Regions from separate parts of the Homo sapiens genome. Here all the other regions are reported to be linked to region 3. Evidence: microRNA targets listed by miRTarBase, many of them from high-throughput screens and not tested one by one. Region 3 holds a microRNA gene; each other region holds the end of a gene's coding sequence.

Evidence for each region. Region 3 holds the annotated microRNA hsa-miR-6818-3p (UUGUCUCUUGUUCCUCACACAG, at 5,358-5,379, opposite strand). A microRNA usually pairs through its seed, bases 2 to 8, with sites in the 3' UTR of a target mRNA and lowers its output. Matches are read on the target gene's strand: a 7mer-m8 pairs with bases 2 to 8, a 7mer-A1 pairs with bases 2 to 7 and ends in A, and an 8mer does both.
Region 1: miRTarBase lists LRRTM2 as a target of hsa-miR-6818-3p. Seed matches in the 3' UTR shown: 7mer-m8 at 4,570-4,576 and 7mer-m8 at 3,049-3,055.
Region 2: miRTarBase lists AGTRAP as a target of hsa-miR-6818-3p. The part of its 3' UTR that is shown has no 7-base or 8-base seed match.
Region 4: miRTarBase lists ARHGAP18 as a target of hsa-miR-6818-3p. Seed matches in the 3' UTR shown: 7mer-m8 at 5,107-5,113 and 7mer-A1 at 4,818-4,824.

What each region holds. Positions count from the first base shown.
Region 1 is chr5:138,866,315-138,874,148 of GRCh38, forward strand. It overlaps LRRTM2 (leucine rich repeat transmembrane neuronal 2), which reads right to left. Exons shown (of 2, transcript NM_015564.3): 2 at 2,607-7,834. The coding sequence ends at 6,696. The region is part of intron 7 of CTNNA1 (catenin alpha 1); the gene reads left to right. Among named protein-coding and RNA genes, the nearest start is that of LRRTM2, 5.1 kb to the right of the region's middle.
Region 2 is chr1:11,749,036-11,756,843 of GRCh38, forward strand. AGTRAP (angiotensin II receptor associated protein) reads left to right here. Exons shown (of 5, transcript NM_020350.5): 5 at 1,042-1,734. The coding sequence ends at 1,157. Among named protein-coding and RNA genes, the nearest start is that of C1orf167, 9.3 kb to the right of the region's middle. RefSeq lists an enhancer at 1-503.
Region 3 is chr22:30,004,637-30,012,470 of GRCh38, reverse strand. MIR6818 (microRNA 6818) reads right to left here and starts at 5,422; the gene lies at 5,358-5,422. MTMR3 (myotubularin related protein 3) reads right to left here. Exons shown (of 20, transcript NM_021090.4): 10 at 5,152-5,357; 11 at 4,439-4,570; 12 at 3,342-3,453; 13 at 1-103. HORMAD2-AS1 (HORMAD2 and MTMR3 antisense RNA 1) reads left to right here. Exons shown (of 5, transcript NR_110541.2): 5 at 3,275-3,725.
Region 4 is chr6:129,571,349-129,579,182 of GRCh38, forward strand. ARHGAP18 (Rho GTPase activating protein 18) reads right to left here. Exons shown (of 15, transcript NM_033515.3): 15 at 4,784-7,256. The coding sequence ends at 7,165. Among named protein-coding and RNA genes, the nearest start is that of ARHGAP18, 130 kb to the right of the region's middle.

The sequences.
Region 1 (7,834 bases), not on the chromosome of region 3:
TTTATTTATTTATTTTGGTACAAATACTAGGGCCTAAAGATGGAAGTCTTATGCTCTAAACACAATTGTCAATAGATATTCAGTAAACTTAATGTTTATGATGTTTTTACACCTCTTCTGTGTGGTTTTTGGTAAAATCTTGATGAAAGCTATAAAAAGGCTTTGGCAATTGTCTCTAGGGCTGCAGTTTTCATATCTGTTTCCTAAGTGAGGCATGAACCATTGGCCTCTGCCCATCAGGGTTGCTGTTAGCAGATGCTTCTTCATGCTGGATTTCTATTGGGAGTTCCTGACTTGGAGGCATTGGGCAAGCCTTTGCTCTTCAGCCTCCATATATAGAGGGTAGTATTTTCATTTGTAGGCTTCGCAGGATAGGATGCTTGATTGTACTTGACTTTGGAGATTTCTTGCTCTTTACTGTCCTCTTCAGATAGTAGAAGGGGAGGTTTAAGATGTGTCCTTTAAGAGTATTCCCAAAACAAGTATTGAGGATAAAGGTCAAATTCATGCTAAGGAGAAATGTTTTTGCAGTAGCTATGACTTTCACCTCTTTTTCCCCTTCCCTCTTTGTAAAAGACAATTTGTAGTACATTTTGTCTCTCTAAGGGAGACATGACTACCCCAAATTTTTAAACAGACCAGGAAGAATCTATTGTATATTTGAGTGGGAACCTGAGAATGCTGTGGCATATAGACAAAATTAATTAAAATAACTGATAAATCAGATGTAGCTTTAAATGGGATTTTCAAAATTAAAATGTAGGAGAATTATGTTAATAAGCTCTGCTTTTAACTCTATCAAGTATAGGAATGTGTTCCTTTGTGCAATTTAAAACCACCATCACCTATGCCCTCTAGTGCTTATGGGATGAGTTTGACAATAGAATTGTGTTCTCTGTTTCCTGCTTCTGCCCTGGTTACTGCTGATATTCCTGGTGTGAGAGTTCTCTTAGTCTCTCTGATCCCAGCTTCCCTGGCATTGGGAAAAGGGTGGCTTTGCCTATTCCTCCATGTGGTCCTGCTATGGGGCTGTGGTGCTGGAGAAACAATAAGTGCATCTGGGCAAACACGGCAGACTACTGGCAGTCAGCTCCTGGAAGCCAGGGCAGTTTATGCCCTAGCACTGCCCAGGTGTAGAATCCTGTCCTGAGGATGTTTATCTGTAGCAAGCCAAGGACATTATAGTTGACCCTTGAGCAACATGGGTATGAATTGTTAAGGTCTACTTATATGTGGATTTCCTCCCACCTGTGATACTTATATGTGGATTTCCTCCCACCTGTGATAACCCTGAGACAGTAAGACTGACTCCTTTTCTTTCTCTTCCTTCTCGGCCTACTCAATGTGAAGACAACAAGAAGGATGAAGGCCTTTATGGTGATCCAGTTCCACTTAATGATAAATGTATTTTCTCTTATGATTTTCTTTCTTTCTTTTTTTTTTTTTCTTTTTTTTTAAGATGGAGTCTCACTCTGTCACCCAGACTGGAGTGCAGTGGCATGATCTCAGCTCACTGCAACCTCCACCTCCGGGTTCAAGCAATCCTCCTGCCTCAGCCTCCCGAGTAGCTGGGATTACAGGCGCATACCAGGTTGCCTGGCTAATTTTTGTGTTTTTAGTAGAGACAGGGTTTCGCCTTATTGGCCAGACTGGTCTCAAACTCTTGACCGCAGGTGATCCACCCACCTCAGCCTCCCAAAGTACTGGGATTACTGGCGTGAGCCACCATGCCCCACCATGATTTTCTTAATAACATTTTCTTTTCTCCAGCTTATTTTTGTAAGAATACCATATATCATACATATAACATATAAAATATGTATTATTTTGACTGACGGTATTAAATATGTGTTATCTAATATGGACTGACCGTTTATGTTATCAGTAATGCTTCTAGTCAGCAGTAGCTATTAATAAAAATTTTTGGGAAGTCAAAAGTTATGCAGATTTTCGACTGTGTGGAGCAGGGGGTTGGCACCCCTAACCCCAGTGTTGTTCAAGGGTCAATTGTAGTTTAAAATCTTCCCTTCCTTTTCCCATCTGTACTCACTGAGTCGTCATCCAGGGTGGAGGAGGTCATGTAGGGATCTTCATGGTCCTAGTGTGTAAGCACCTGTGGGACCTCCCTCCTAGGAGTGGCATGGAAGGTGCTGCTGGGATGGACATCAACCAACCCCCAAGGTAGAGGCCAAGTCGCTGTTGGCTAGATACAGGCAATTGGTACCTTTCCGAAGCTCTCTGTGGTGTTAGTTCACTGTAATGGAGGATTCAGAGAGGGGCAGCCAACTCCATGCCCTGTGAGCCTGGGACAGTTGTTTGTCCACTTGCTCAGGCTCTTGACAGAGCAGCTTCTTACTGCATGACAGCTTTTTAGGCACTCTCCCTTCTCACCACTTTACCTTTACTTTCTTCTTATCCTAGTTTTACCTCTCTCTGAAGACAGGTAATGATTAGCTGCCCCTTTTTTCAGTGGACACATTTGACATTGTAGAGGAACATGGAATAAAACAACTGTTCATTTAAGATTTCTATGTCTGTCACAAATGGCTTTTCAAGTTTCACATGTCAAAATTGATAGGTTATCAAGGAAAAGTAAAAAGAAGGCATTCACTTTTTACAGTATACACAATTTTAATAACAAAACTTGCCTGTACACTGCTCTTTATGTTACCCTCCCCCCTCCCAAAACACCCTGCATAATAGTATTTTCTTCCCACCCTCAACCCATCTGCCCACCTCCCACCCAAAAAGAAAAATGGCTCTTGAAGGTGATTGAACACAATGTATTTGGACTGTACTTTGAGTTTCCAGTCTCAGTGTTGATAGGAAGGTTCACCAAACATTCCATATATCAGACTTAAAAAAAAAAAAAAAAACCGCTAAGGACAAAAATGTTAGTTGAAAGAGTTGCAGAGGTTTCCAAATGTTTGCAATAGCAGAATGAAAGCTTAAACAGTAATTTTCTATTTGTTTTTGGCCTTATTCAAGTACTATGAGTTTGCCCCAGGTTAGATAGAGAAATATTTAATTATCTATAGATGGCCTTACTGTCTCTCTCTCTTTTTTTTTTTTTTTCCTGGCTCAAGGGCTTTAGTCAATAAGATATGAAAAGTATGCCCCCAAACAGACTTTTCAGATAGGTCTGTCGCTGTATTCCTGTATTAGGAAAACGATCATGTAAGTCAGCTGTTAAAAATATTCTTTAACAAATTTTATATTGATATCCACACTTCAGAAAAAGAACAGGACATTTATAGCTTTTTCCCCTGATAGCTGTGTGTAGGAAGTGTGCCTTAAGAAAATGAAATGCCTGTTTTGAATTTTAGAATTCAAACCTAGTGCTACATAGGGCTCATTTTTATTGGAAAGATGGAGTCTAGCTCTTGGTGACTAGCATTAGAATAAGCAGATGGATTTTAATAATTAGTGGCGTTGGGAAGTTCAGTCAATTCCATTTATTGAATTGATACAGAAATTAACTTAGGCACATTAAGAAATTACATGTGTTAGTACAGATTTTTGGCTTAAAAAATTAGTATCTTTGCTTTTTGATGCTGGCAGTGGGTATTCTCAGAGTTGTGTGTGGATTTACAAGTTTATCAGCCCACTCTTTTCAGAAAGGTGATTGAAATCCCTGTCATGCTACAGAAATGAATATAAACGATTTCAAACTAGTTCTTGGTTTCTAGATGGGTATGGTATCATAGTCTTCTTTAGCTTTCCTTTTTCCAGAGAGATTAATTATTTTTCTGGTTCTTAATGGTCATTTTCCTCTAATCTTAAAAATAGAAAAAAAATGGAGTGGGTAGTGGTGGTGAAGAGGATAAAACCCCATCAAAAAACAAAAGCTCTGACACTGTGTAACCAAGATCCGCAGCGTTGCTGTGATGCTGTTCCGTTCTAGCCAGTTGGTAAAGAAAGCACAGATGACTAACAGTCTAATCTTCAAACCTGTGCTGATTCTGAAACACAAATGGACAAAAATGAAAGAAAATCTTGCCTTCTACAGGCAATTAAAAAGGGAGGTTTTTGCTTTTAAATGAGAAAGGAAAATACCTTTTTGGTACTACTGTCATTCACTTTTCTTAAAGGACATTACCCAGAAAAATGGAAGGCAAAAAATTTTGATTTTTTTCAACTGGAAAGTATGCCTCGCTAGCCTTGGCTATGCTGTTCCTCTGAATTAGTAAATGGCTGGCTTTTCCAATTTGCTTTTGTCCGTACACTAAGGATTTTGCCAGTTATGGTCCTTTAAGGATTAAGGTGGAGATTCCCAGCCAAAGAAGGGGATTTCTTACCCATCCCACAGTTTAAATCTTAATTTTGTTTGTGGTTTGAAATGATGGAAAATACTCCTCTGCTGTCCTTCAGGGCTGATGGAATCTTGTGTGCTCAGGACACAGTTGTGTTGTGACCAAGCTGTCTGTCACCTGACAAATGGCAATGGTCATCCTGATAAATGGGTTGGTAAATTTTAGCTCGTGGTGCTCTTATTTGTAATAGGGGCTTCTAATTCAGCCTGTCTGTGGGGAAGTAGGGCGCTGTGCTCTATGCTGTTAAATCAGCTTCTGTCTCTGCCCAGACAAGCCCAGGGTCTGGTTTAACAAGAGACAAAATACTCACCACTCGAGATCAACTGAATTGAACTGGGCTGAGACTTTGACAAACTAATCTGCCCACCTTAAAAAAGAGCACATTTTTACTGTAATTTGTGATCTTGTCTGCTTTTTACCGAGAGATGTTAGGTGAAGGGTACTAAGGTACCCATCTCTTAGTATTAAAGAAGAAAAATTGTGATTAAATCTTACTGGCTAAACTATAGCCTTAACATGTTTTCAGTTTGATCCTGGGAAGAAAAAATATGCCCTGAATGAAGGATATCATGTTGATGTTGATGTTGGGGAAAAGATAACTTGAAAAATGGTAGTGGCTTTCTCTAAGGTTTTATGTCTTTTTTCTACATACAGTAAATGGCAGTTGTAAAAAATGCTCATTTTCTAAAATCAAGTTAGTGCTATAATTTTACAGTTTTTTCAATATGTGGAACAATGTTTATGGAAAAGTTCTGTGTGAATGAGTAGCTTGCATCTAAATTCCAAATATTTAATAGGTTTTCTTTAGAAATCATAATACAAGAAACTGAATACCTGTGGTTCTTTTCTGCATGAAAAATGTGGCATCCTTATCATTTGTTAACTATGGCATGTTTATATTTACATTGGAGGATCTACCCCTCTTCCCTTTTCAGCAGCAGGTCCTTTCCCTGTTTGGTGCAGATTGTGTATAATCATTGTTGGCTGCCTTGTAACTCCAGCTAACCTGAGAGTCAGATTTCAAAATCTGCCTTTCCTTTTAATCCCTCACCTCTGTGCTGCCTTCAAGTTACCACTGTGTGGCTGCATAGGCATGTCGAGTTGTTCTGCCATGAGATTCATCTCAGTGGTGCTGTTTTCTTCACCTACACTGAACTACACTTACAGCGTGAATGCGTATCTTTATTGAAAGATCGAAATGTATTATATAATAGTTGGAAAGTGTTTTTTTTCATGGTTCCTTTGTAATACAATAAGAATCAGTGTTAAGCCTGTTGCTAGCCAATTATTTTTAACTTGGCTCTTTGAGGTTTGAAGATCAGGAAAAAGCAGAAGAAAGAGGTTTAAACCCCTTTGTCAAGGCATCTTTGATCATGATAGTTGAGAGAGAGAGCGCGAGAGTGTGTGTGTGTGTGTGTGTGTGTGTGTGTGTGTGTGTGTGCGCTTTTAAATTGGAGGGAGCATGTCAGGATTGTTAAATTGACTCAGTTTGTCTTGTTTATCTCCAAAATATCTTCTAAATCTTTTTTCACATATTAATGTAAACATAGGATTTAGTACATTAATTAGTACAATGACAGTTTAATGCTAGTTTAAAACAGTTGTCTAAATGCCACAAAAATCATGTCCATTATAAGTCAAACGAGAAATGTATAAGAAGTTGGTGTAATTATTTAGGATTGGTTTCATTGTAATGAGACCTTTTCACAGTCACTTGGATTCATTGTGTAAATATATTAAAGAGTCACTCAGCTTATTAGAATTACATTAAAGGGTTCTGAATTCATGATATGGACTTTGATAATATCTACTAACCCAGGCAGAAACTCTGGAAGGAGAATGTTTAATATTTACCAGTCTTCAGCATACATGAAATTCTACTTCCCACCCTGGCAAGAAATTGAAGATTTGAGTAAATACCAAATTATCATACAAGAGAACTTTACTAAGTCTCCTTTTAAGCAGCAAGATAGTTGTGGTACATGGGATGGAGAGCAGTGATCAAACAGGTATTGATCTATATCTGTTTCTGCCCAATAGCTTCTTTCTAAATTGTTTTCAGTAGAAAAAAATAGTATATGGAGACCTTAGTGTAAAGGTTTACACACGATTGTATATAATTACATACATTTCTTATTTTGAAGTAAGCATTTTAGACTTTCCAACAGGAGTGCAAATTAATGTGAGCATTGATTCATTTAACACTTAAAATATGGTTTCATTTAAAAAATTAAAAATACTTCAACACTTCAAAAACTAAGTCTCCACTTAGTTTGGAAAATTAGGCTTAATGTCACCATTGGTAAAAATTAGATATGTATTTAGCCTCTACTATGTAAAATAGGTTACTTATCTGATGTGATTTTTGATGATGGGTAGATATTATACTTCACATTCTTTGTATGGCAGCTGCTGACACTTGCACTGTCCATAACCATTAATGATGATGAAGGGTCCTTCATGGGTGGGTTCATATTCATTATACGGTCCTTGGTCTGACATGTTTGACATATGGAGTCGTGTTTGGGATCGGAGCTGCCTGTGGTTCTGAACCATTGAGCACTGCCTAATTCTTCTTAAAGTGGGAGGGCAGCACTTCCTGGAGATGAACACTATAAAAATAATAAAAAAGAAAGAAAACAATAAAGCCATTGTTCCCGTAATTACCCGCTGAGTGAAGATGGCATTGTCTGGTTCAGGAAAGTGTTCCTCGGTAGTAACTGCTATGCCTGCAGTAGTTGGGATTTCTTTGTCTCCCACATGGTAACTTGATGAGCTTATTCTTTTTGTATATTCAGTGGTTGGATCTCTATAAGTTGTAGCCATGACAGTGACAGTGGTTGACAAATTCCAGCAGAGCTGAAATCCATGGACTGCATCTAGAATATCCTCTCCTTGGGTGTGGTCAGGACTGTGGCATAGGATGGAGTGTTCCCACCGACCTTGGAAACTGCCCAGCCAGGAGGCCAGAGCACATATTCGGGCGCTGCATTCCCACAGATTGCCAGAGAGACCAACGGTTGTGAGGGATCTCAGGGAGTTTAAGATCTTGGAATCAAGGCTGTTTAACTTGTTGTTATCCATGAGGAGTATTTTAAGATTGGGCATCGTTTCAAACACTGTCAAGTCGATGGCTTTGATTTCATTTCCAGTCAGGTCTAGCTTTTCTAAAGTGCCCCAGGTCCACTCCATCCCACATGTCAAGTTGCTGATTTTGTTCCATTGTAAGAAGAGCGTGTGCAGACTGCTTAGCCGTAGGAAATGAGCAAAATTAATCTTCGTCAGCTGGTTGTGCTCTAGGTGAAGCTCTCTCAGTTTAATTAATCCTGCAAATCCATTGCGAGCCAAACTTCGCAAACGATTTGTGCTCAAATCCAGAAACTCCAGACTACGACAGTCCCAGAACAGGCGTACTGGGATAGTCCGCAGGGAGTTGGAACGTAAATGCAAGGTCTGCAGCTTCCGAAGGCCATAGAAGAGCTCTGGGTGCAGAGATGACAGCTGATTAAAAGACAGGTCCA
Region 2 (7,808 bases), not on the chromosome of region 3:
AGAGACTGCTAGGTGGCCAGGGCAGAGCCCGTGCCAGTGTAGGCTGTGGGAGCCTCAGTGAAGACAGCCCTGAACAGGGGGCACTTTCCCTGCCCACCGGCCCCTCCCCACTCACCCAGCCTTACACCTGCCCTCTCCCACGCCCTCTCTGAACTCCTGTACTCCTTCTCCTGGTGGCCGAGCCATTTGCCTGCTCTCTGACACCTCTCTCTCTCTTCCTTTCTCTCTCTCTTTGAGAGGAGTGGAGGGAGGTGGTAGGGTGTGGCCTTCTGCCTTTCACTCCTGAGATGAGATGCCCCACGTGGCCTGTGACTGCCACCAGCTGGTTGAGGGTGGGAATGGCCTGGGGCTGCCCACAGTGGCTGACCTCAGCACTGCCTGGGCCTGCCCCCAGGTGAGGGGTGCCAGAATGTTTCTCCCATTGGACAGATGAGGAAACTGAGGCCCACATCCTTTGGGACTTGTTCAGGGTCCCGGGATGAATGTACAGAGTAGGGGATGGGAGTGAGGCATGTGGCGTACTCGGAGCCCTACGGCCCTGCCTTGGACCCAGCCCCAGCCTCCGAGGCCATCTGGATATGGTAATGTGGTGTCCTTGTACCTGGGAGGGGAGCTGGAGAGGAGTGCGTGGGCCCGGGGCTGATGTCCCTCTGCCCAGGTTCCTAAGCACGTGCTGCCTGGGGAAGCCCATGGCACAGGGGCCAGGAGCCTGGCTTTGGACTCGGCTGCCTAGGCGTGGGTCCCAGCATCATCAGCTTTGAGCTGTGTGATCTCGGGCAAGTCACTTCATCCCTTTGACCCACAGTCTCCTCATCTGTAAAGTGGGGACAATAAAAATACCCGTCGCACAGGGATACGGCAGGATTGAATGAATAATACACGCTAAAGGTTTAGGGCCTGGGGCTGCTGCCTCTGTCTCTGTGCATGGTGTCAGGATGCCCAGCCCGAGGGTGGCGGGGGTGGATCTTGGGTTGGACTCAGCTGAACATCCCGAGTTCTCACCCTTCATTTTTCTTTCCCACCATGTCCCCTGTCACCTAGGTTTCCTTGGGTCTTCTCAGGACCGTAGTGCCTACCAGACGATTGACTCAGCAGAGGCGCCCGCAGATCCCTTTGCAGTCCCAGAGGGCAGGAGTCAAGATGCCCGAGGGTACTGAAGCCAGCCACGCTGCGCCCGGCCCTGCCCCGGGCCTTCCTCGTGCCTGGGAGGTCGTTCTAGGGATGCTCCTGACCTCCGTCTCTTGGACCTAAGATGGAATGTGTCCCCAGCTCAGGGATTGCCTGAACCAAGAGGCCAGGAGCCCCCATGGGCCGCCCAGTACCATGCACACTCCTGTCCCGAACTCCCTGAGGCCTCCCCTCCCTTCAGGGCACCCACTGGTTCCCAGGCTGGAACCAGGGTCTCTCTTTACCTCCTACCCCATGGTGGCACCACAGAGGCCCTCAGCCGAGTCCTGCCTGAGTGTTGCAAGCTCAGGCCTTTAAGGACTGCTGATGCCCCCTCAGGCCTCCCCCAAGTTTGCTGGGCTTTGGTGGAAGCCCTGAGAGCTTCAGGTCCTGCTCAGCCCGAGGAGCAGTCTGGCATGGGAGTGAGGCCCCGTCCTTCTCACTGCCTGGTCACATGGTGCCTAGGGATGCAGGGCTGGAGGCCAGAGGTGTCAGCAACACTGTGTCCCACCACAACCTCCAGCCTCCCTTTTCAGAGCACAGCATTAAAGTTTGGGGAATTCTGTAGATGGGCTGTGTTTTGAACCACCTTCAATCTCCTGGCTGGGCTGGGGCCTGGCCTTGTTCCTGGGAAGATGTCTCCTGCCAGTTCCCAGGTGGAGCCTGTGCTGTGCTGCCCCATTCTGTCATGGCAGGAGGAAACAGGCATGTGCGTTGGCTGAGCTGGGCTTGAGCCTGGCTCTGGCCTAGCAGAGGCCACAGGAGAGAGAGACACTGGTGGGTGTGGTGCGTGGGCATCCGTTTCTCTGAACCAGATGACCCAGGCACTCTTTGGAATCCTGCTCTGCCACTTACTAGCTGCATGCCTTCAGTGTCTTCTAGAAAGGGTTGGTGCCTGCTCCAGGTGTGAAGTGCCTGGCGTGAGGAGGGCTCCCTAAGTGATGGTGAACTTGTTAGCAGTGGACCTGCTCCTCAGGCCAGTGACGATGCTAGGTTAGGAGGCAGGGGCGACCTCTTCCTGGTAGCCCCTGTGTCTGGTCACAGCTGACTTGGGCTGACACGTCCAGAAGTTCCCCAGGGCCTCGGCCCACCCCACGGACAGGTCTAGCTATTCACAGCTTGCTCTTCTGCCCCCTGGGCACCAAGTGCCAGGGCTTTCCCAGGCCATCCTGGCTTGTCCCTGGCACAGGGTCAAGGCCTAGTGCACAACTCCCATTATTCTCTTGCGTCCATCTGTCAATCAAAAGAGGCTCAGTACCTGCCTGGTGCCGAGCGGGCTTGGGGCTGCAGTGGTGACCTTGGGAGCCTGCTCTCAACCTAGGAGTCTTCCCACCTGGAGGATTACAGACAGAGGCAAGAGCCCCGAAAGAAGAGGACATGGGCCTCTGGGTCAGGGAGGAAGGCTGCTGTGGGGAAGGGGCTGTGCTCCGGGCAGAGGGCTGCTGAGCAGCTGCAGTTGTGAGAAACTGGAAACAGCCTCACTGTCGGGAGACGGACCAGTAAGCCACGGTCCATTCATTACAGGGAGTATGGACCAGGAAGCCACAGTCTATTCATTGTAGGGAGTATGGACCAGGAAGCCACAGTCTATTCATTGTAGGGAGTATGGACCAGGAAGCCACAGTCCATTCATTGTAGGGAGTATGGACCAGTAAGCCACGGTCCATTCATTATAGGGAGTACGGACCAGTAAGCCACGGTCCATTCATCGTATGGAGCACAGTGCAGCAGTTACAGCTGTTAAACCAGACCTATTTCCACCAACGTTGGCCCCCCGCAAATGTGAACAAAGCAGATTGCAGAATGGCATTGGGATGAATTTTCAGACCTCACAGCAATGCCATATGTTGTTCCTGGGTGTATGTGCGGTAAAATAGAAAAGCATGGACTAGAAGGACACCTGTCAGGTTCATGACTGTAGCCACCCTGGGTGGAGGAGGAGCGTGACCCGAGGGGAATGGGACTAAGACCCAAGTCCGTTTATCTTGTGTATACAGCATCCTGGCCCCGGGAAGGCTTGTGTACCTGCGTCGTGAACGTGTCAGATTCCCAAAGGGAATGAAAAGCCAGGGCAGGGGCTTGGCCCAGGCAGTGGGGGCAGATGATGCAGCCTGGGCCACGCACAGGGGAGTGTATCTAGACACCTCAGTCCCTCATCGTCCCAGACCCCCAGGTTGAACCGGCTCTTTGCGGGAGAGGACAGAGGAAAGCTCCTGTCTCAGAGTGTACCCCAGAAGCAGAGCCTGCGATGAAAGCAAGGGTGCCAGGCTTTCCAGTCATTGGCTAGGAGCTGCTCAGGGAGTGGGAGAGGGTGGCTTAGATTTGCAGGCACTGTGCCACCCCCCGACTGTGCAGGCAGTCGGGAGCCGGAGGGCCATCAGAGGCAGACAGAAACGGTGGAGGAGGCAACCATGTGGCTGCCCCTTCCACACAGCGGCCTTAACAGGGAGAGCTTCTAACATACAACAAGCGCCCCAGAGCCCACTGTGAGTGAGGCCGTGTTCCAGAGGCAGGGGATGCCAGGGTGCGGGAAAAGTCACCCAGGGGCATTCCATTTAGCATGAGAGGTTCTTGGTGACAGCTAACAAGGCCTGAGGCAGAGAGTGGCTGAGCAGAGAGGGTGGGGGAGGGAGAGAAGAAGACAATGAGGTCAGAAGGTGGCTGGGGTCAGATGTGCAGGCTTAGCAAGTCATTCTGAGGACTCCAGTTCTGGCTGAATGAGATGGGAGCCCCTGGAGGGTGTTGGTCAGAGCCGGGCAAGGTCTGCCTTATATTCTTTTTTTTTTTGAGACGGAGTCTCCCTCTGTCGCCCAGGCTGGAGTGCAGTGACGCGATCTCAGCTCACCACAACCTCTGCCTCCCAGGTTCAAACAATTCTCCTGCCTCAGCTTCCTGAGTAGCTGGGATTACAGGCATGCGCCACCACGCCCAGCTAATTTTGTATTTTTAGTAGAGATGGGGTTTCTCCATGTTGGTCAGGATGGTCTTGATCTCCTGACCTTGTGATCCACCTGCCTCGGCCTCCCAAAGTGCTGGGATTACAGGCGTGAGCCACTGCGCCTGGCGTTTTGTTTTGTTTTGTTTTGTTTTGAGACAGAGTTTCGCTCTTGTTGCCCAGGCTGGCGTGCAATGGTGCAATCTTGGCTCACTGCAGCTGGGTTCAAGCGATTCTCCTGCCTCAGCCTTCCAAATAGCTGGGATAACAGGTGCCTACCAACATGCCCAGCTAATTTTTGTATTTTTAGTAGAGATGGGGTTCACCATGTTGGCCAGGCTGCTCTTGGACTCCTAGCCTCAAGTGATCTGCCCACCTTGGCTTCCCAAAGTGCTGGGATTACAGGCATAAGCCACTGCACCTGGCTTGCATTCTAAAAGGACCATGTTGGTGGCTTGGATGGGGGCAGTGGTGGGGGTGGTGACAAGTGGTCAACTCTTGGACACTCTCTGAAGGCAAAGCAGCAGGACCTGTGATGGGCTGGATAGAGGATGCAGAGACAAGCCCGGGACTGTGAGGTGTGGGCCTGACTGGAAGGCTGGAGCTGCCGCTAGCCAGGAGGGAGGACGTGGGAGGGCAGGTCCAGGATGAGGGCAGGTCCAGGATAAGCCCAGGACTTCAGCCATGGACGGGCTGCACTGTGCTAACGAGGCTTTCCAACTGGACATTCTCACCACTGTGCAACTTTTAAAAGGCCCATGTCTGTAGGGACTTGGAAGTAGGGCACCCTGCAGGTTTATATAGTGTCTGACATTCTTGAGGCTGTCAACCACAGGAAGCAAATTCCTCTTGCCTCTGGTCTCCTGCTGGAGAGGGCTTGTATCAGTCTGTTCTCATGCTGCTGATAAAGACATACAAGACGGGGTAATTTATAAAGGAAAGAGGTTTAATGGACTCAAAGTTCCACATGGCTGGGAAGGCCTCACCATTATGGTGGAAGGTGAATGAGGGGCAAAATCACGTCTTACATGGAGGCAGGCAAGAGATAGAGCCCTTGCAGAGGAACTCCCATTTATAAAGCCATCAGATCTCATGAGACTTATTCACCATCACCAGAACAGTATGGGGAACCATCCCCATGATTCGAGTATCTCTACCTGGCCCCGGTCTTGACACATGGGGATTATTACAATTCAAGGTGAGCTTTGGGTGGGGACACAGCCAAACCATATCAGGACTGAAGTCACACTTGTCCAGTTTGCAAATCTATTTCTTGTTTTCACAAAGCTGAGCCTTCCACATGAGGAAGCCAGAGAAATTGCCCCACAGGAGGTCACTGCCTTCTCCTGTTGGCCAGAACTGGACCAGAGCTGCAGTACCTACAGGGCCCCACCTCAGGCCGGTTCTCAGAGTCTCCGGAATGGCCTGGAAATGCCAACTCTCACACTGTGTCTCTAAACGGGCTCTGGAGTCAGTGAGCCTTGGTTTAAATCCCCTATGCACTCTGTAACTGGCTGTGTTAAGAGACACTATCTCTTAACCTCACTGTGCCTCAGCTTCCTCATCTGAAAATGGGGACAATAATAGTGCCTGACTCGGGTATTAGTGAGGACTGAAAATGGTGCAACATCAGTGTTTAATAAATGTTAGATCTCATTATCTGTACGACTGTGTAATCATTTAGAGAGGGAAGGAGTCCAGGTGGCCTGTGACTGGTACCAGCCGGTCGAGGGCAGGAGTGACCTGGGGCCTCCCACCCTGGCTGACCTCATTGCTGCCAGACCTGTCCCCAGGTGAGGGGCACCAGAATGTTTCTCCCATTGGACAGACAAGGAAGCTGAGGCCTGCAGCCCCTGGGACTTGTTCAGGGTCCCAGGATGAATGTACAGAGGAGAGGATGGGTGTTAGGAGTGTGGGGTACTTGGGGCCCTACGGCCCTGCCTTGGACCCAGCCCCAGCCTCCGAGGCTGTCTGGATACAGTAATGTCGTGCCCTTGTGCCTGGGAGGGGAGATGGAGAGGAGTGCGTGGGCCTGGGGCTGGTGTCCCTCTGATCAGCTTCTATGGGGAAGGCCATGGCACAGTGGCCTGGAGCCTGGCTTTGGGCTGGGCTGCCTAGGCATGGATCCCAGCATCATCAGCTTTGAGCTGTGTGATCTCGGGCAAGTCAATTCATCTCTTTGACTCAATGCTATGAACATTTCTTGAGTGCTTTCTACAAGTTTTCAAAAGATTGGAAAATTTTTCAGGAAGTAAAACAGATTTTCCTCACTAGCAACAGAACTCAGGACCCAGTTCTCCAGGTGGTCAGGTGCTTTTGTTCACACGTCTAAGTCAGAAACTACAGAGTCAACAGGTTGTCATAAAACATTGTCATATCTGAGATGAAAATTCAGTATCACAAATTTGAACTTGAAGGAAACTTAGACCTCCCCTAGCCCAGTGGTTTTAAAAATATTTTATTTCAAGGCCAGGCGCAGTGGCTCATGCCTGTAATCCCAGCACTTTGGGAGGCTGAGTTGGGAGGATCACCTGGGGTCAGGAGTTCGAGAACAGCCTGGTCAACATGGCGAAACCACGTCTTTACTAAAAGTACAAAGACTAGCCAGGCGTGGTGGCTCGTGCCTGTGGTCCTAGCTACTTGGGAGGCTGAGGTGGGAGAATCACTTGAACATGAGAGGCAGAGGTTGCAGTGAGCTGAGACTGCGTCACTGCACTCCAGCCTGGGCGACAGAGTGAGACTGTCTCAAAAAAAAATTATTTCAAATCCCTTGTTTAAAAGAAATATTCAATATATAAGAGGCAGCAGGTCTGATCAAGTACCCTCTCATCAGTACCAGGGAACCCAGGGATCCCCAGAGCACAACGTGAAAGCTGATCTCCTAGTTCCTAAATCTCCTAGACACAGGCCCAGAAGGGACAGCCTTGGACAAGGGCACACGGAGACTTGATTTCAGAGCTGGAATGTGGCAATGCAGAGATCAGGATTGCCAGTGGAGTTTTAAAAGAATGAAACAGAAGTATAAATGAAAAACACATGATTGAAATCAGAAACTCAATGCCTAGGTTAATTCATAGAATAGATTTATCTGAAGAGAGAAATGGTAGCCTGGGAGATAGATTTGAAGAAATCACCCAGAATGCAGTAGAAAGAGACAGAAAATACAAAAAAGAAGTTAAGACACAGGTTGGGCATGGTGGCTCATGCCTGTAATCCCAGCACTTTGGGAGGCCCAGGTGAGCAGATCACGAGGTTAGAAGTTCGAGACCAGCCTGGCCAAAATGGTGAAACCCCGTCTCTACTAAAAATACAGAAATTAGCTGGGCATGGTGGCAGATGCCTGTAATCCCAGCTACTCGGGAGGCTGAGGCAGAAGAATTGCTTGAACCCGGGAGGTGGAGGTTGCAGTGAGCTGAGATCACACCACTGCACTCCAGCCTGGGTGATAGAGCAAGATTCCATCTCGGGGGGGAAAAAAAGAAGACACAAAGGATAGAGTGAGAAGGAGCAATATAAATATAGCCAGAGTTCCTGAAGGAGATGATGAGAGAGAAGCAACATTCAAAGAAATCATGTCAGAATATTTTCCAAAATGGAAAGACAGCAAAGCTCAGGTTCAAGAAGCTAAACAATTCCCAAACGGGATAAATAAAAAGAGGTCGGGCGCAGTGGCTCACACCTGTAATCCCAGCACTTTGGGAGGCCA
Region 3 (7,834 bases):
CGGCCGCTGATCCTGATCCACAGCATGCACTACCAGAAGCGCTGATTTCAGAAGCACAGACAAGTGATGGAGCCATTTTGTGCTTTCAAGAGCTGATAGCCAACTATAAAAACAGGAGAGGATTAGAAAATGCTGATTTTTTTATGATTTACTGCATCATGCTCAATGATTGTCAAATGAAAAAGCAATTTCCAAAGATTTCTCTCTCCAAATATAACACTGCCAAAACAAAAAAATCTGTGTGTTTATAAAGCATGTCTCAGGATGAGGCCCAAGCCCTACTATACAATAGAGAAGAGCCTTAGAAATAGGGGCTACAATTAATAGCACACCTTTTGTTCCAAAATCTGTATGGATGATTCCCCGGGCAAAATATTTGACATTTTTCAGTCCATGGTATAAGGAAAGTGGCTCTTTCTGGAATCTTCTCCTGAATAAAAAATGTAGCCACTTCTGAGATGTAAAACAGAAGATATTTATATTTAATGATCAGCAACTACGCCCAACAAGTTCTCAAAAAAAAAAGAAAAGAAAAGAAAAGAAAAACTCATGAATACAAATATATCTATGAGACATAAGCTGGATGCCATATACAAGAATGGTACACACAACCCTGCCTATGACCCAGACTGTAACACTTACCACTGTTTAATTCTTTAATGTTTACTGACTAAAACAAGATGAGCCCAATCTGATAATTTATACTGATACAAATTAGTATACCAATGGCCACACAGTATTGCTGGGCTCAACACAGACTGGATTCAGCAGCGATCTAGGAAGAACCTTTTTTTGAAAGACTTTTAGAGGCCGGGCGCAGTGGCTCATGCCTGTAATCCCAGCACTTTCGGAGGCTGAGGTGGGTGGATCACTTGAGGTCAGGAGTTCCAGACCAGCCTGGCCAACATGGTGAAACCCCATCTCTACTAAAAATTCAAAAATTAGCTGGGCATAGTGGCACACGCCTGTAATCCCAGCTACTCAGGAGGCTGAGGCAGGAGAATCACTTGAACCCGGGAGGTGGAGGTTGCAGTGAGCTGAGATCAGGCCACCGCACTCCAGCATGGATGAGAGAGAGAGACTCCATCTCACTTTCGGAGTATCAGATAGCAGTAGCTGCCCCTTGGGAGTAATCACAAGCTAATCACACTTGCTTTTTAAACTCTGTTGCATTTTGTTTCTTGTGCTTTCCCTCACCCCTCCCAATCCCTAAAAAGGAGTTGATTTTTCCCAAATGTGATCAGATTTGTAGTTAAGATCACAAGTCAAGTCTTTCAAACACTGAGTCAGAGGAAGAAATAAACATTTCTGTCAGGGGACTGTGGGAAGGCTGTAAAGGCCTACTAAACCCTGTGGAATAAGTATGAAATTTTGGCATAGTCTAAGGAGGTGGGGGTCTTTCCAGGCAAAGAGACAACAGAATGCAGTGCATAAGTACTGGTTGTATATGGATTTGTTTGGACTACCAACCAGACTGTGACTCCTCAGAGGGCTAACACTATGTCTCAGTCATAACTGTACCCCCAGCACAGTGCCTAGCATACAGTAGGGAGTCCCACTGTTTAATGAATTGTAAGTCTGTTATGGGTAAAAATCCAATCGTAAGACTTTCTATCTCCTAGCAGGTACCTGAGAAACATTTTTTCCTGATGGATCAATTGTTTATTTCATTCCTCACATATTCTTGAAAGGAACTAAAAGATAAGGCTTAGGAGAACAAATACTAAATTATCTCCTAGCACCTGAAGAAATGGTAAACAAGAGAACCGGTGTGAGGTTCTTTTGAACCTAACTAAACTATTATTTAATACCAGTTGGTGTTGTCTGTGACTAATGAAGCTGTACTCCAAAACCTGCCAGCCAAGGAGGGGCTGCTGAGAGACTCCCCATTCCCTTGTCCTGTTCTCAACCTGCACTAGAAGCCTACCATTCCCCTATCCTCCACAGCCCCAAACACAGGCCGGGGGCCTAATTACAGCTGCCCATCACTGCTACAGCTGCTTTTTACCCATGAGGGAGACTTCAGTGCAGCATTATGATTTGCTGCCAAATACATAAAAGCATTACCTTTAATAAAATCCCCAAGACATTTATGTGGACCAGGTGAGGGCTAATTCTATCTTTTTTGACTCTGATAGCTCTTTAAGAATTTTAATATATGGAGGGTATTAGATCATGTAGTGTTGATTACATGTCTTTCATTTTATAGACAGGAAAACTGAGATCTACAGTAGTTAAACCCCTTGGCCAAGGTTACACAGTTCGCGGCCGATCTCCTGGGTCCTTAGTAAGGCTCCTTCTACATACCACCCTAGGGAAGAAAGCGCTGCTAGCTGGGACCTGGAACTGTGTAGCAAATGCAAATGGCTAATCCCCAAAGGAGGCAGCAAGCTCAATTCTCCGGTCAGGCTTTCCCCAAAGGCACTGCTTCATCCTCTTGGCTGATGACAACTACGGTGAATTTAATCATTTGCTACTGGCAGTCAATATAAGTGGTTTAGGCAGCATCTGATTTAATAAATCAAATAAAGAACGCAGTAAAACTTGATGTGATCATCAGATCTACTGAATAGGACCCAGAGAAACAACTATGGGCTCCAGCACAAATACCAGAAAAAAGAAAATTCTGTCTTCTCTGGCACCTATCTCTGGCTTCCTGAAATAGTAAAACAGGATTTTTAAATACTTATCTGTCCATATTTGTTTTACAGAGCATTCTTCCTAATTTATCTTGTATTCAATCAGTACCCTTGGAGGGGGTATTAGTTCACCTTCCTCACTGCAAATGCCAGCCATTCATATTTAATAAGCAATAAGAATCAGGATAATATGCTTAGTAAATGAGAACAGTTTAGAAATTGAAAGCAGATGTAAAAGGAACTGACTTAATGGCAAGTTTAAACCCTTTAGAACATGATGAATAAATTCTGACTTTTCATGATAAAACATCCCAGTTCAAAACAGGTTATGTATCACTATGGGACATCAGAAACTGAAGAATTAAATTTCTTTGGGCTAAAAATGACGTGGAAGGGAAAGGTCCCAGGACAAACAGTAAGGTAATGCTTCTGTTTTGATGCTGAGATTTCTTCTGTGCTGCAGATTTTAAAACCTTTCAAATGGCTGTATTTTCTCCCAACTCTTCCTCTGTGCTGCCACATTTCAGACCCAGCAAGGAGATACTTGCAGAGACTGGTCTGGTAACTGAAGATTACCAAGAAACAGAAGGAAAGACTGCTCCAAATTAATTTTTTTTTCTTTTTTTCCCCCTTAGTTCAAGGAAAGAAGCAAACTTATTATTTAAGAGCAATGCAAAATGAAAGCCAAGGCCAAGGACTTACTTTCCCGGATCTGGCATCTGAGTGCACAGCAACCGCAGAGACTGAAAACTCCTCCGAATAGAATGAATGTTTGCCATCCCCATAAACACAACTTCACAGTTTGGGTAATACTCTGGAGAGAGTAACAATAAAGAGAACACAAATACGTTGAACTTAAAGCCCACATGGCCAAATTTAAAAGCAAACTGGCTATAAAACAAACCCACTGCAGCTTCTGATTAACGAAACTGAAATGTTTTGAAATGCTTAACTATTAGCCCAATCCTTTATAATAAGAGGAACACACTGAATTTTAGCTATCTTTTCAAAAAGCGTGAAAAGGGAAGGTTAGATTTGTAAAGAAGATACTGACATAAAATAAAAGCTATTATTTTTTAAAAGAAAGGCCTACTTCGATCTCACTCTGGCTTTACTTCTTGGGCCTTATCTAACTTGTGGCTTTGAAATCTCTTTGAAAAGAACTCCACAGAACAATGCGTTCACACATTCAAATTTCACCTTGGTACAGCTGCTTTCAATTTCCAGCTTAGACCACATCTGAACAAAGAGCCTGGTGCCTCTGCCTGTGCCATAGGCACTGAGGGGGGTCCCTCCTTGGGGAAAGCTAGCATTCCAACAGTAATGGTGTTACAGCTCAGGACAGAGATACCTTACTAGGGTTCTGTATTTACTGCTTCAATTTTCACCCCAGGTTTTCTAAGGAGAGGCCCTTGAGGAGTTTGCTACAAGGCCAGTGGTGAGCATACCCTCTGTCAAAGGCAACAAAAAGCTTTTAGACGGCTGAGAAATTGAGCCCACTAAAGCAGCAGCTTCCAAACATGAACAGGTCTTATTATGGGGAAGATCTGCTTTCCTTATCACCTACAAGTTGGCACAAGGAAGGAAGATTATGTGACTTCACTGCACCTCCTCCTCCATTTCTCCTCAGAAAAGAACATACAGTGTTAAGAATCCAAAGAGAAGCTCTGGCACTCTCACGACAGGATGGATGAGGAATATGGCTTGCCACTTATTTCAAATTGGGAACTAAGTCTCAGTTGGGCAAGGGCTACACTCACAAGGAGAAAGTATGGGGAACAAAGCACCATACACCTCACCTGGGCATTCGCAGCCTCCTCCTTTGGCTCGGTTTGCCACAGCAGCTGCATAGGAGCGTGCATCCAAGATCAAAAGCTTCTGCGGTTGGATGGCTAAACTCTCTGCTCCTGAAGCATTTGACAGAGAAGAATCTAGGGACACAGAGGGAGAGGGCATACTAAATGAGCCTGTCTCTCCCAGAACTGTGCAGAATTAGACCCACAAGCACATCTTATGGCACAAAAAAGGCTCAATAAAATGAAATCCCCTAACCAAAACCCTTGATACATAGGATTTTTCTCTTTTTTTCTATGTGGCCTTCTTATGAAAGATGAGAAGGATTTATTCTCCAAAACTGACTCCCAGAGTACACATGGGGTTCACACAGCCCAGTCTCTTATACTTCATTTCTGTATCTGTTGTCCTTTCATGAAGCCTGGCATTTCCTGCCATGGTCTGCAGATACTGCAAGTCCTCTATTACATAAACACTCCATTTTTGTCACAATGGCAAGAAAGACAACAAACACACTAATATCTTGATTCAGGTTTGAAACAAAGGGTCTTCTGATTCTCTGCCAAGACCCATGACTCCTCAATCAATCCCATCAAGTGAAGCTCTGCACATTCACTTCTATAAAAGTAAATCTATGTCTTGTAAGGAAGAGGCCATTTCAAGAAAAGGTTCTTAGATGCTATAAAAATCATTGCCATGGGTCCAGGGAGCACCTTACCGAACTCCACGTCAGAAAGGTCTCCCCCATTGGGAAAGTCTCGAGAAGTGTTCCTAGTTGACAGCTTGCTGCCACTCGATCGGGAGTCAGAGGCACAAGCTTTGGCTACTGACTGTACCAGATGCTCATCATCTGCATTTCGCCAGCCCCACCAGCTAACCTCTGGCTGTCCACAGCGGGCAATGACAGCTCCATTGCTCTGGTGCCTGTGTGAGGAACAAGAGACAACAACTGTACCCATTCAGATGCTCTCTGTACTCACACAAAATAGATTTTAAGTGCCTTAATGAACAGTCTAATTCTAGGTAAGTGTTGGGTCAGCTTCAAGTCCTCTCAGTATTAAAGAGGGTAGAAATCTTACACAACCAACAAGAACAAACAACAAAACCTGTGTGTCTTTCTCAATTACCATAACATCACGGAGATCCCTGTAAAGTTACCCAAAAAAATGACTAACAGGGGTCAGGCATGGAGGCTCACTCTGCAATCCCAGCACTTTGAGAGGCTGAGGCAGGAGGATCACTTGAGCCCAGGAGTTCAAGACCAGCCTGAGCAACATAGCAAGACCCCATCTTTACAAAAAAGTTTTTACAAATTAGCCAGGCATGGTAGCACATGCCTGTAGTCGCAGCTACTCAGGAGGCTGAGGTGGAAGGATCCCTTGAACCCAGAAGGCTGAAGTTGCAGAAAGCTATGATTGTGCCACTGCACTCCAGCACTCCAGCTTGGGTGACAGAGCAAGACCCCATTTCCAAAAAACAAAAAAGAATTAATGTGTACTCTTAGTGAAAATAAATCAATATTCGTAACTTAAATCTATAGGTACTACACTAATTCTGCTACCCAATAGTGAAATCTGCTACCTTCTTAATGCTGAACCAAGAGCCCGCCTCTGGGAATAAAACATTTACCTGGCCCACAGTGAACTGCTTTACAAAATCTCCTGAGATTTCATGAGTCACAGACTGCTCTTATAATAGGCAGATAGCTCAATGAGCCAGCTACCCTTCCTAGGGCTCTTAAGAAAGAGAAGAAGAGCATCAACCTCAGAAAACCATACTCTGACATATCCTTTTCCAATAAGACAGACCAGAAATCACAGTCTACTTTAAGGTGCTATTAAAACCCAGACTTTTCCTAGTTAGGCAATTTTAACTGATAAAAAGTTAGAAAAATTCTATTACTTGGCAGTAAAGAGGAATAAAGTTCTGATACAGGCTAGGACACTGATGAACCTCAAATATGTTATGACAAGTGAAAGAAGTCAGTCACAAAAGGCAACTTATTGTACGACAATTAACATGAAGTATCCAGAATAGGCGAATCTATAAAGATGGAAGTAGATTTCTGCATGTAGTGACTATTATAAACTCGTAGTTACTTAAGGGAGCTTGCCTAATTCTAAGTTGGGGTTACTTAAAACGAGTATGTTTCTATATAAAACTGAAGCACTCTATGTTTTACTAGCAGGGGCTTCATCCATTGGACATCTTAATTATTCAGGGCTAGGGTGGCTGGGTGCCCTGTGAATGGGTTTTTTGGGACGATGAAAATGTACTGTAATTTGTTTTTACTCCTAAAACTCACAAATAAGTTAAATTTGGCACTAATCAAATTCCACTGAAATCACCAGTTTGCTTGTAGTTTTTAAAGCCTCCCTCCCTGGGAGACAAGTAGCTGTAAGTACTTGTGTATTGCCAACATGCTCAACTGGCTCACGTGCTGAATGGGGCCAAAATAGAAATAAAACCTCAATGATTCTTTATAAAATGTCTCCTAGCAAATAACAGGCAACCACTGAGCTGAATGACTCCAAACCCTGCACAAGAGGCTGGTTGGGCCTTTCCTGAACATCCTCCTCTTCTTCAATGCTTCCCAGCAGTGCCCAAGAGGAGCAGTAGATGGCGCTCTTCAGCCTGGATCTTGGGTTTTAGGGGACACTGCATTATAGTAGCTATTAGATTTCAACTGGACTATTGCAATAAACAATTATGTTTTCTGCAGTCTTCTAAAATGCTTCAGACTACATGAAAGATAATTCAAACACTACAGTTAAAAATCACTAAAGGAATGCATTTCTATCACTAACAGAACCAGGCAAAGTATAAAAATTATGATGTCCAACAGATAAAGCCCTCCCTACTAAAACACAGAATGCTTCAATTTTATATAGGAACAGAATTGTCTTAAGTAACCTCAACTTAGATTTAGGCAAGCTCCCTTAAGTAACTAGGAGTTTAGAATAATCACCACATGCACAAAGGAAAAAGCTGTGAACTGCACTACAGATGGGTGCCCTTTACATCATCTTGCTATGTTAGAGCAATCTCTACCTTCAGTTATAAATCCAATTAAGTGCTCTCTCATCACAGTAGGACAAAGCCCTAATCAAGCGCTGGTTCAGCATGGTGCTGTCAAGTAACTGCTGCTGGCAACCTCAGGAATCATGACCCAATCTACAGACAACTAAATTCAGGAAATGGATGTCAAGAGTTCCAGGCATCCTGCCACCTAGGCTGGCAAAGCAGAGCATGGTGGAGGATCCGATTCTTCCACACGCCCCTTACAAAGCTCCCAAATACTACAGCAACCCAGTCTGCATCTCAGCGATACAAGACACATGTTCTGAGACAGAGCCCAGTTCCAGGAAACCTGCCTGATTTTGCATGGATGACTACACCAA
Region 4 (7,834 bases), not on the chromosome of region 3:
CCAACGAGGATTTAAATAAATGCAAAGAAGGGCATTACATAACAGTAAAGGGATCAATTCAACAAGAAGAGCTAACCATCCTAAATATATATGTACACAATACAGGACCACCCAGATTCATAAAGCAAGTTCTTAGATACCTACCAATAGACTTAGACTCTAACACAATAATAGTGGGATACTTTAACACCCCACTGTCAATATTAGATCAATGAGACAGAAAATTAACAAGGATATTCAGGACTTGAACTCAGCTCTGGACCAAGTGGACCTAATAGACATCTACAGAGCTCTCCACCCTAAATCAACAGAATATACATTCTTCTCAGCACATTGCACTTATTCTAAAATTGACCACATAATTGGAAGTAAGACCCTTCTCAGCAAATGCAAAATAACTGAAATCATAACCAATAGTCTCTCAGACTACAGTGCAATCAAATTAGAACTCAGGATTAAGAAACTCACTCAAAACCACACAACTACATGGAAACTGAACAATCTGCTCCTGAATGACTACTGGGCAAATAACGAAATTAAAGCAGAAATAAGTAAGTTATTTGAAATCAATGAGAACAATGACACAACACACCAGAATCTCTGGGACACAGCTAAAGCAGTGTTTAGAGGGAAATTTATAGCACTAAATGCCCACTGGAGAAAACAGGAGAAATCTAAAATCGACACCCTACCATCACAATTAAAAGAACTAGAGAAGCAAGAGCAAACAAAATTCAAAAGCTAGCAGAAGACAAGAAATAACTAAGATCAGAGCAGAACTGAAAGAGATAGAGACATGAAAAACCCTTCAAAAATCAATGAATCCAGGAGCTGTTTTTTTTTTTGAAAAGATTAACAAAATAGATAGACCACTAGCCAGACTACTAAAGAAAAAAGAAGAATCAAATAGACACAATAAAAAATGATGAAGGGGATATCACCACTGATTCCACAGAAATACAAACTACCATCAGAGAATACTGTAAACACCTCCACACAAATAAACTAGAAAATCTAGAAGAAATGGATAAATTCCTGGACACATGCACCCTCCCAAGACTAAACCAGGAAGAAGTCGAATCCCTGAATAGACCAATAACAAGTTCTGAAATTGACACAGTAATTAATAGGCTACCAACCAAAAAAAGCTCAGTACCAGATGGATTCACAGCCAAATTCTACAAGAGCTAAAAAGAGGAGCTGGTACTATTCCTTCTGAAACTATTCCAAACAATAGAAAAAGAGGGACTCCTCCCTAACTCATTTTATGAGGCTAGCATCATCCTAATACCAAAACCTGGCAGAGACACAACAACAAAATAAAATTTCAGGCCAATACCCTGATGAACATCGATGTGAAAGTCCTCAATAAAATACTGGCAAACTGAATCCAGCAGCACATCAAAAAGCTTATCCACCACGATCAAGTTGGCTTCATCCCTGGGATGCAAGTCTGCTTCAACATCCACAAATCAATAAACATAATCCATCACATAAACAGAACCAATGACAAAATCCACATGATTATCACAATAGATTCAGAAAAGGCCTTTGATAAAATTCAGCACACCTTCATGCTAAAAACTCTCAATAAACTAGGTATTGATGGAACATATCTCAAAATAATAAGAGCCATTTATGAGAAACCCACAGCCAATATCATATTGAATAGGCAAAAGCTGGAAGCATTCCCTTTGAAAACCAGCATAAGACAAGGATGTCCTCTCTCATCACCCTATTCAACATAATATTGGAAGTTCTGGCCAGGGCAATCAGGCAAGAGAAAGAAATAAAGCGTATTTAAATAGGAAGAGAGGAAGTCAAATTGTCTCTGTTTGCAGATGACATGATTGTATATTTAGAAAACCCCATCATCTCAGCCCAAAATATCCTTAAGCTGATAAGCAACTTCAACAAAGTCTCAGGATACAAAATCAGTGTGCAAAAATCACAAGCATTCCTATACACCAATAATAGACAAACAGAGAGCCAAATCATGAGTGAACTCCCATTCACAATTGCTATAAACAGAATAAAATACCTAGGAATACAACTTACAAGGGATATGAAGGACCTCATCAAGGACAACTACAAACCACTGCTCACAGAAATAAGAGAGGACACAAACAAATGGAAAAACATCCCATGCTCACGGATAGGAAGAATCAATATCGTGAAAATGGCCATACTGCCCAAAGTAATTTATAGATTCAATGCTATCCCCATCAAGCTATCATTGACTTTCTTCACAGAATTGGAAAAAAATAATTTAAATTTCATATGAAACCAACAAAGAGCGCGTATAGCCAAGACAATCCTAAGCAAAAAGAACAAAGCTGGAGACGTCATGCTACCTGACTTCAAACTGTACTACAAGTCTACAGTAACCAAAACAGCATGGTACTGGTACCAAAACAGATATATAGACCAATGAAACAGAACAGAGGCATCAGAAATAACGCCACACATCTACAACCATCTGATCTTTGACAAACCTGACAAAAACAAGCAATGGGGAAAGGGTTCCTTATTTAATAGCGTTGGGAAAACTGGCTAGCCATATGCAGAAAACTGAAACTGGACGCCTACCTTACACCTTATACAAAAATTAACTCGATGGATTAAAGACTTAAATATAAGATCTAAAACCATAAAAACTGTAGAGGAAAGCCTAGGAAATACCATTTAGGACATAGGCATGGGTGAAGACTTCATGACTAAAACACCAAAAGCAATGGCAATAAAAGCCAAAATGGACAAATGGGATCTAATTAAACTAAAGAGCTTCTGCACAGCAAAAGAAACTACCATCAGAGTAAACAGACAACCTACAGAATGGGAGAAAATTTTTGCAGTCTATCCATCTGACAAAGGGCTAACATCCAGAATCTTCAAGGAACTTAAACAAATTTACAAGAAAAAATCAACCCCATCAAAAAGTGGGTGAAGGATATGAACAGACACTTCTCAAAAGAAGACATTTATGCAGCCAACAAACATGAAAAAAAGCTCATCATCACTGGTCATTAGAGAATTGCAAATCAAAACCACAATGAGATACCATCTCATGCCAGTTAGAATGGTGATCGTTAAGAAGTCAGGGAACAACAGATGCTAGAGAGGATGTGGAGAAATAGGAACACTTTACACTGTTGGTGGGAGTGTAAATTAGTTCAACCATTGTGGAAGACGGTGTGGTGATTCCTCAAGGATCTGGAAGCAGAAATACCATTTGACCCAGCAATCCCGTTACTGGCTATATGCCCAAAGGATTATAAACCATTCTACTATAAAGACACATGCACACGTGTGTTTACTGCAGCACTGTTCACAATAGCAAAGACTTGGAACCAACACAAATGCCCATCAATGATAGACTGGATAAAGAAAATGTGGCACATATACACCATGGAATACTATGCAGCCATAAAAAAGGATGAGTTCATGTCCTTTGCAGGGACATGGATAAAGCTGAAAACCATCATTCTCAGCAAACTAACACAGGAACAGAAAACCAAACACCGCATGTTCTCACTCGTAAGTGGGAATTGAATAACGAGAACACATGGAGACAGGGAGTGGAACATCACACACCAGCGCCTGTCAGAGGTTGGGGGGCTAGGGAAGGGATAGCATTAGGAGAAATACCTAATGTATATGACAGGTTGATGGGTGCAGCAAAACACCATGGCACATATATACCTGTGTAACAAACCTGCACGTTCTGCACATGTATCCCAGAACTTAAACTATATTAAAAAAAAAAAAAGTTAATTATGCCTTCTTATCTTAGACATCCCTTCACTTACTTTCCCGGTTCACTGCCTTCCTTCTTGTCATAATCGTTCTGCTTGAAATGGACGTTGTGAAAAGCCTAATTTCAGCTTAGAAAAATGTCCTCTTCTACCGCCCTTCCCATTCAATGGATTAAGGATAAAAGCAGACAAACAGATTGAACATAGAAACTCTGAAATTATTTACAATTTCAGAATCGGTAATCAAAGCAAGAGCTCCACAGTGTTCTTACCTAGCTGCCTTGCAGATGCCTGGCACTGAGTCTTAGCAACTTCCCTATGAACTCGGGTTCATTTTAAAAACTTCCCGTAGTTTCGATTCAAAGGAATGCCTGACCAATACTGCCACCTACTGATGAGTAGGTGAGAAATCAGGACAATCAGATGGAGAGTCCAAACCAGTTTAATGAAAACGAAGACAGACAATAATGAAAAATTCCTTGAAGTCGGTAAAATAATCTGCCTTTCCCAGAGAGTACTAGTAAGGAATTTACATCGAATCCTACAGCAGCATTAAGCAAAGATTGTGTAAGTGCAAAGAATTACAATGACCTCTGATACAGTCTGGCTCTGTGTCTCCACCCGAATCTTATCTTGAATTGTAATCTGAATTGTAATCCCCATATGTTGGGGGAAGGATCTTGTGGGAAGTGACTGAATCATGGGGGCAGTTCCCCGTGCTGTTCTTGTGATTGTGAGTTCTCACAAGATCTAATGGTTTTGTGAGGGGCTTTTCCCCGCTTCACCCTGTGCTTCTCATCCTTCTCCTTCCTGGCACCATGTGAAGGACATGTTTGCTTACCCTTCTGCCATGACTGTAAGTTTCCTGAGGCCTCCCCAGCCATGTAAGTCAATTAAACCTCTTTATAACTCACCCAGTCTCAGGTATTTCTTCCTAGCAGTGTGAGAACAGATTAATGAAGCCTCTTTCAGAAAAGAGCATCACCAACGTTACCAGGACAACCAGTCCTCCTTTAAGAATTCAAATGTTTTAAACTCAAGGCAAATATATTTATTTTTATTTTGTCTCATACACACACAGAAAAACAAATAAAAATCTAGCCTGAGATTTAAAACTCACTAAGGAAAAAAAATCACAGCAAAAGCAGTAGGTTAACATCAGGATATTTATATTCAAGGCTCTATGGTATCAAGTTTTTTTTCTCTTTAGAGCCAGGCATGGTGGCATGCACCTGTGGTCCTAGCTACTCACGAGGCTGAGGCAGGAGGTTTGCTTGAGCCCCAGTGCTTGAGGCTGCAGTTAGCCGCGAATGCACTGCTGTACTCCAATCTGGAAAACAGAGCAAGACCCTGTCTCTAAAAAATTTGAGATTTTTTAAAGTCCATATTTTTTTGTTATTTAAACGTGATATTATTCAACATTGATGAACTTGGGTCGTGAGTTCTAAAAGGGATTCAAAATAAAATGGCATTTTCACTTTTTTAAAATTAAGATACTTTTTCATGATCAAAAATATGTTGTGTCTCCCTCCTGACCCTCCTTTTCAGGTAGGTAGCAAACGTTGCGAAATTTAGTTGGCATATGCTTCAGACAACCTTTTACTTAAATCATTATCCTCACTGCTATCTTTTTTTTTGAAGTTGTATACTCCTAAAATGTTTTAAGCACTTAATTTTTCTTTTATATTATTAATTGTTTTCAACCCACTAATAAGTACCATTTTGCTAATTGGGAAATTAATACATATTGTCAAAGAAACAGACTAAACTGTATTTTGAAAATCCTGAAGAATAAAAATTTGTAAAAGGAAAAAAACTAAAGACGAAAACATATTTACATCTCTGACATCTTCCTACTTTAAAAATTACAAAGAAAATAGAAAATAGAGGTGACTTTTAATAACAAAAAAGTCCATTTCTCAATATTAATAAAAAAAAAGCAAAAATACTCATAAACACATAGGATTAAAAGTAATGATTCCAAGAGAAGATAATTTAGAAAAAGGCATTTAATTACAAAATTTTCTTTTAAATAAAAAAGCAATGGCACGAATCACCACAAAATCATTTAAGTGATCATATCCACAGGCTGTTCTTGTAATTATATGCTAAAAATTTATGACTGTTCTCATTAACAGCATTCCCCCCCTTCATTAGAGACATCAAGAGCTTCTGAGAATGTGTAGTTTTTCCTAAAGTACTACTAAAAGTATCATGAACACCGTTTGTGCAGCATTCATTTACATCACCTTTTATTTACTATATTCTAAACTCATAAAATATTTAACATTTCTCTACTTCATTTCTTATTTACAGTACAGAGGCTCATCTCTTGTCACAATATGGTTTGTGCATTAAAATCCCTGGGAATAGTACTTTCAAGAACATTTTAATAAATTGACTCCGATTATTTAAAATAAGAACACAAACAAAAGCTTTTTCACCCAGAAGAATAATTCTTCCAGTAGACTTATTCAGGACTTAAAAAAAAAAATCCCTCTTTAAGTAAAATACATTCTTCAACCATTACTGGATTATACTATCATGCATATTTATAATGCTAATAATGACAACACGTAAAGCCAGCTATGACTTTTAAAATTCCATTTAGAAGAGTACAGTAGACAGAAAGTGCTTTGGCTTTCACTCTCTTGTTATCCATAATCCAATTATTATTTCACATGGGTATATTTTATTTATTCTTAGTATATAAGTATTTAATGGTTCAGTAATAACTGGCAGCTTCTGACAGTCCTATTTTCTTGGTCGCTGATACGGTTCTGTGAACATAAGTCAGATGAACTGAAAAAAAATGCAAATCACTTCCTGTGATACAGCAGGAAAAGGTGGAATGTTATTATTTGAGCAAATGATTCAAAGAGATGAATACTAACATTCTGTCGTGACAGGAATACTGTGAAATTAGGTATGTTTTAATGTGCTGTCTTCACAACTTGCCATACCTGGTATTTGTTATCTTTTTGGTCAAAAAGCAAACCTAACTGGGAAAGGGTAGATGTGAGGAGGTAATAGAGGTGAGAGAGCATATATTACAGTATATATGATTTTAGGAGAAAAGAATGGGAAGAGAAGACATTTCCACATATTAAAAAAAAAAACTATGTCACATCTGGACACATTTCACAGAGCATATGAAAACTGCCCACAAACTAATTAAGCCTCTTTACTCTCACTCCAGAAATTTTTTTTCTAATAATAACATTAATAATAATTAATATAATTCTGGCAGCAGCACAAATCTATGACTTTTTAAGGCTTAAGAGAGTCATTTTTAAATACTTGGGTACAACTGAATAATATGAGTCCTGCCATTTCTTTTATTTACACTCTTGACTCAGCAAGAATTATGACAGAAGTCCACATGGTTATCTGCAGCTTGTTAAGTCTTCTACAATGGCTTTGACTTTATAACCCACTCAGCATTTGGGTTAAGCTGATATAAATCCTTCATGTAAGTGTCATCATCAAGGCAGCGTTCCCCTGTTAAAATAGATGTTGTGTCAGTTTAATACAGCAGGTAGATTGGTATGCAATTTTAAACTTAAGCTTAATTATTTAACTCTTAAGTCTTGGACTTCAAAATACTTATTCTACTTTGGGAGGCCGAGGTGGGCAGATTGGTTGAGATCAGGAGTTTGAGGCCAGCCTGGGCAACATAATGAAACCCCATCTCTACAAAAAATACAAAAATTAGCTAGGCATGGTGGCTTGCACCTGTAGTCCCAGCTACTCAGGGGGCTGAGGTGGGAGGATGGCTTGAGCTCAGGAGGTGGAGGTTGCAGTGAGCTGAGATTGCGCCACTGCACTTCAGCCTGGGTGACAGAGGCAGACACTGTCTCCAAAACAAAACAAATAATAATAATAAAAAAAAAACTTCTCATTCTTTCCTGTTTCTCAAAATATTGTAAGAATTGGCCAACAATTGGAAAAATAAATTTGGTAGTCTTTCTCCAAATGAATAGGTTTCAAATTAATTTAGGAAGCTGAAAATACTTTGTATGATAGGCTTTTAAATAGTTCCTTAAAAGCTTAATCATCTTATTAGGAGGGGCAATGGT